Linked DNA regions of Homo sapiens: region 1 is linked to region 2. Evidence: fine-mapped expression QTL. A gene starts in region 2. The other region holds a variant in brackets. All regions are shown on one strand. Distances are from middle to middle.

What was found. PIP is the estimated chance that this variant, and not a neighbour inherited with it, causes the effect.
Region 1: its variant is fine-mapped to the expression of PPIP5K2 in whole blood (INTERVAL, PIP above 0.99).

The regions. Positions count from the first base shown.
Region 1 is chr5:103,085,456-103,088,375 of GRCh38, reverse strand. GIN1 (gypsy retrotransposon integrase 1) reads left to right here. Exons shown (of 8, transcript NM_017676.2): 8 at 204-2,376. The coding sequence ends at 478. Among named protein-coding and RNA genes, the nearest start is that of GIN1, 33 kb to the left of the region's middle. The variant A/G (reference allele first, on the strand shown) is at 1,495.
Region 2 is chr5:103,118,858-103,121,777 of GRCh38, reverse strand. It overlaps PPIP5K2 (diphosphoinositol pentakisphosphate kinase 2), which reads right to left and starts at 1,477. Exons shown (of 31, transcript NM_001276277.3): 1 at 1,290-1,477. It overlaps GIN1 (gypsy retrotransposon integrase 1), which reads left to right and starts at 1,640. Exons shown (of 8, transcript NM_017676.2): 1 at 1,640-1,714. RefSeq lists enhancers at 1,077-1,136, 1,187-1,376, 1,407-1,666, 1,502-2,002, 2,003-2,504.

The DNA.
Region 1 (2,920 bases), 33 kb after region 2:
GTTTATGTATGAACTGTCAAATTTATATGTCATTTTTTTATTCTTTGACATTCATATTTAGTAGACAGTATAACTCCCTAGAAGTTAATCTTGATAGTTAATTTTTATTACTTGGGATTTTGTTCCTCACTTAAAATTGTTTAATTAAAAAATATGTTTAATTATAATTCTAAAAGTCAAATGTATGATTTTTCTTTTTTCAGAAAGTCTTTATCTCTTGCAAGGTTCAGTAGTGGCAGATCATGACTACATTGGATTGCCTGAAATTCCGATTGGAGCATATCAAGCAAATATTCTGGTGGAAGATGCAACTATTGGTATAGTCGATAATGAATTACTGACATCAAGCAAGGATCGTGAACTATTAGAATATAGAAATACGAAAATCTCTCCATTGATAGACGATCATAGTTCTCTTGAAAAGCAGACTTTCAGTCTGTTGGACTCTTCAAACCAGGTTCTTGAATACTTAAGTTAGTAAATACCAAAATTTATTTAAATTGTTTGTTTAGAATATAAATTCTTAATGATATCTTATTCATTAAAAACGTTGTATAGAAGAAGTATCTTGACACATTCTTAATGACTATATTCTGAAGGTTTATTTTATAGTTCTTATCTAAAATTATGCCACATTTGAATATCAGTATACGTACATATGAAGGCAAAGGAAGCATGTAATATATAGAATTCACTTTTTCTTCTAAAAAGAGAACAGGCAAAGCACCCCTACTTCTTGGGAAATAAATTCCAGCCCAAATCTCTCAAACCTTTGTATGGTTTTGGCACCGTTTCTAAGTTTTAAATTTTCTGAAATTCTCTACCATTTAAACAGTAAGTTTGAACTACCTTGAATGGAATTGATAAATACTGAATCAACTGTAACAATGAATGAAATGAAGCTTCTTTCTGTTTCATTAGAACTTCTAAAAACAAGATTGTATGAAAAAATATAGGGTTATTTAATAGGCTTTCACAGAATATTGGTAATTTCAAATTATCTAATTGGTTAGATAGGGTCAGGATTAGGGTCTGAAACTATGTATTGGTTGGGAAACAATTTGTTTATTTTCATACTATATATTAAAGATAAAACCATCGACCAGGCATGGTGGCCCACACCTGTAATCCCAGCGCTTTGGGAAGCCAAGGCAGGATGATCACTTGACCCCAGGAGTTCGAGACCAGCCTGGGCAACACAGGGAGACCCTATCTCTACAGAAAAATGTTTAAAAATTAGCCAGGTGTGGTGGCACATGCCTGCGGTCCCAGCTACTCAGGAGGCTGAAGTAGGAGCATTGCTTGACCCCAGGAGGTCGAGGCTGCAGTGAGCCGCGCTCATGCCACAGCTCTCCAGCCTGGGCGACAGGGCAAGACCTGTCTCAACAACAACAACAAAAGTATCCGTTAAGAATTTTTTCTGCAATCATAAAATCATAAAATAACCAGTATCAAAGATTTTAAACTGTAATTTCTATGATATTCATAAATATA[A/G]AATAAATATTGTTCAATAAATATTTATTCTAAAGCACTATGAAAAGAACTGTGGGAAAAGTAAAAGATGAGTCAAACGTGTACCTCATTCTTATAAAGGACTTACTGTCTGGTAGGTAATAAACTATGTAAGCCATGTACAGCACAAGTTAAGGCATGCTAAATTGCAGAAGACAGGTGTAGATAATGTACTTAGGGAGGCAAAAAGAGAGAAGTTGTTTTTACATAGGAAATTTGTGTTTATCCTTATGGAAGAAGGATCATTTAAGCTTGACCTTGAAGAATGTATAGGATTTGGTAAATGGATACAAAAGAATTAGGGGAGAAGTAATACACAGAAATGGAAAAGTATTGTAATGATTCATAAAAAGGCAGGGCTTCTTGTTGTCTACACTGCCTCGGGTATAAAGTGAAGAAGCAAGATAATGAGGGATAAAGCTGAAAAGGTAAGTAGGAAACCTTATGGAGAGCTTTGAATACTATTAAGGATTGATATGTGCCCCTCCCAAAATTTGTGTTGAAGTCTTAACCCCCACCACCTCAAAATGTGACCTTATTTGGAAATGAGGTTGTTGCAAGTGTAATTAGTTGAGATCATATTTCAATAGGGTGGGCTCTAATACAGTATTACTGGTGTTCTGATAAAAGGGGAAAATTTGAACACAGACTCAAGGAGAATGCCATGTGAAGATAAAGGCAGAGTTTAAGATTATGTTTCTATATGCCAAGAAATGACAGAGATTGCCAGAAAACTACCAGAAGTTAGGGGAGAGGCATTGAATACATTTTTCCTCATTCCTCAGAAGACCAACCCTGTCAATACCTTATCTCAGACTTTTGCCTCCAGAACTGTGAGACAATAAAATTCTATTGTTTCAGCCATCCAGTTTGTGGGACTTTGTTACAGTAGCTCTAGCAATAATACAAATGCCTGGCTAAATTATTTCTTTTCTGAGAGCAAAAACTTTGTATAGGAAACTGTCATAATCAGAACTGTGTTTTTGGAAGTTTAATCTGGCAACTAGTAAAGAACAGATTAGAAGAGGAGAAAACAAGGCATGGAGATTAGTTGAGAGGACTTCGCAGTGATGACGAATACTAAAAACCTAAACTGGGCCTGTAGCATTGGTAATGAATGGAGTCTGTCTTAAGATCAGTACAGAATATCGCACATATTATATTTCACAACCATACTGAACAGTGATGTGATATCAAAGATGGAGACCTGGAGTATTCTGATTACTCATTTAAGAAGAAAGATTATGTTTAATATAGGCTAAAGGAAAAGTGTTTAGGGTAGGGTGTGAATCTAGGACCTCATCTTATACCACAGACCAAATAAATTTCAAACAGAATTCCAGGAAGAAAAAAACAAAACTTTTTTTAAAAAAGCGTAATTGTATCAAACAGTGCTACCTATCCTGCT
Region 2 (2,920 bases):
TTTAACATTTAAAACAGCAACCTTTGATTTTAAAATTTTCTGCAAATCAGTTTAGTCATTTGCTTTAAATAAACCTGTGCTGCAGTAAGTACAGTATTCTGGGTTCTGCACTACTTAATTCTGCATCACAATGCTCCATAAAGACAGAGATCATGTCTAACTTTTGTCAGACATATAAGTAGGTACACCAAAATTTTTTAAATGAATGGATACTTTCAGACACTGAAAATGTTAGTGAAGAAATTGAAATCGAGGAAGAACAGGACAGGACAATAGAATACAGATTTTGAAGGCAGACAGATCTGGTTTTTAACACAGATTCAAACGTTTACTTATAACAAATGTTTAATAGAGCAAGTTGCTTGACTGTTCAAAGCCTCCATTTCTAACTCTGTAAAATGGTGATAATAATCTAACATACCTCCTGGAATTGTTGAGAGGAATAAATGACAAACTATGTAAAGCACTCGGCACACATAAGACTCAGTTAATGGCAACTATCGTTATTATTTTATCTATCTGAGACAAAAAAATTATCTATTTCATTTAAGAATTCTCAATAGCAAAACAAAATCCTGTCCCAGTGTAGAGCGAGGATTTTACGTGCTAAGGTCAGCTATGCTTCCCACTTCCACAGTTAAGCCTTCCAGCAAGACAACTACTAGCCAAAGGACACCAAGAGTCGCAATCTCCCAGGAAGTGGTCAAGAACCTCGTGAATGAGATCCAGGGATCATCACCCTGGCCCCTTCTTCTTCAAGGCGCAGAAGGCTGCAACGACCTCCAAATGACTAGGTGCGGCAGTGCCCTGCAGCCTCGGTCCCTACTATGAAAAGCTGCAACACATGAGGCTTTTGTTATTTTAAAGTGGGTGTGGGGTTGACAGAGAGAGGGATAAAGACTAAGGCAGAAAATTTTTTAAAAAGCCACCTCTACCCACAGCAGTCCCATAACTCGAGGCTAATCACTTCAGTGGAGCCAGGCACAGCGTGGGGTAGAAGCTCAGCGGTTCCCTTTTAGCTGATCTTCAATTTCTGGCGTCTCGAACCCAAGAAATGAAAAAGGGAAGCCATGGGGGAGCAGGAGGAGAAATCAAGGCGCGAAAGGACCCTCAAAGCTGTACTGTCACTCCACGCCCAGGCTGTCATTCTCTCCAGCACAAGCCCCTCGGTGGAGCATGTGTTTAGGGTCTGCAGAGCACAGGAGACAAAGCAGAAGCCCAGCAGCCGCCTCAACCCTGGCATGATCAGGTTCCGCATCTCCGGTTCTCCTCCGGTTTTGGGCCCTCACCTGCCACGAATGCGGTCGTCACGCGAGCAGTTGTGAGATGGTCAAGCCCATTCAGGTCTAGGTTACCCCCTTTCATCCCGGAGGCAGGGGTGAGGTGTTTGTCAAGAGACTTCAGTTGTAGGCGTGGACGTAGGCTACTTCCTTCAGTAACAGCTATAGGGCCACATAAGGGAACCTCAGGCTACTACACCTCAGGAATCTCCGTCACGCCTCTTCCCCGCCCTCCTCGGGTCTCACGCCGAAACCTCACCGGGCGGAACGATTTCCGGCAAGAGCCAAATGATCAGTCCTAACCTTTCTGACCGTGGTTCCAAGGTTCCCCAAAGGACTGCCCTCTAAAGGACCCGGGTAGTTCCGCTTCCGGCAGCGCGAGATAAATCACGAGAGGAAGCTTAAATCTGTCGTTTGAATTTAGGACCACCTCGGTGAGTGGTCGTTCTGGTGTGCTGTGTCATACCTACTGTTTTTTAAAGTGAGGCGTAACCCGACAGTAATTTCAAAACCATTCGCCTCGACCGGCCTAAGGAAGGGTTTAATTGAGTCTGTGGGGAGATTTTGCGCAAGCGCCTTTGAGATAGGAGGGCCTTGGGCGTTGCGATGTCCCGCGCTAGCTGAGCAGAAAGGGCGAGTGCTGTTTCGGGCCTGGGGAGGTGCCTACTGGGTGTAATTGAGTTTTACCAAACGGTCATTTTCCTGCTGATTCTGAGTGTGGTTGGACCTTGCCCTTAAGATTCCGTTAACGAGTCGCCCAAAGCTTAGGAAATGCTCCCTCACAGCGTTTGAGACTAAGCACTTTTGGCCGGCGTTGAAGAATTCTCCCCATTACTTTGATCAGTCATTTAATCAGAAATTTTGCCCCAAATTTAAATACGTGGCGGGGAGAAACGTGAGGTCAAGAGGGAATCCTGTCACGTAGTTTTAAAAGAAAAATGTCCACTTTATCTCAGTGTAGGTTTTTCTTAAATGGGCATTTCTGAACCAAAGTAGATACTTTTTAAAGTGGAAATGCATTTATCCCATGTGGCTTCATGTGAATGCATATGGCGATGAAGGCATTTTTTTGTTCAATGAATTTGTACTCTGAAGTGAACCAGATTACAGAGAAGTGTATTTAAATTTACAGGTCCTTGACGTTGCATAAAATTGTGCGTGTCCATTTTTTGGAGCTTAAAATAGAATAATTCAAATGTCAGAATTCCGATCCAAGTTAACATGTTGATTGAAAATTGCAGATTTTAAGATGGAACCAGCGGGTATTATAACCTTTTAGGGGCTTAAATTGGTGGCTTTGTTTTTAACCCTTGGTGAAACAGTTAAGTCCTAATCTTGACATAATACCTAACTGCCTTACTTTATTGAACACAAAATTATTAAAGGAATTAAGCAATGAGTTGATTTTATTTGCTTTTATGGAGGGGACAAAGTGTATAAAGCTTAACCAAATGTGACCCTGACATTCCTCTTGCAAAACTACAAGTTGTAATCAATCACTTTCATTTTTTCTTATTCCTACATGTTTAAGTACATTAAGTAATGATTTTAAGAGAAATTCTTGAAAATATGAGCATATCCAAAGAAGTCCCAGGACAGTCTTTCTTTATGTAGTAGAAACCACTTAATCCCCCTTGTAA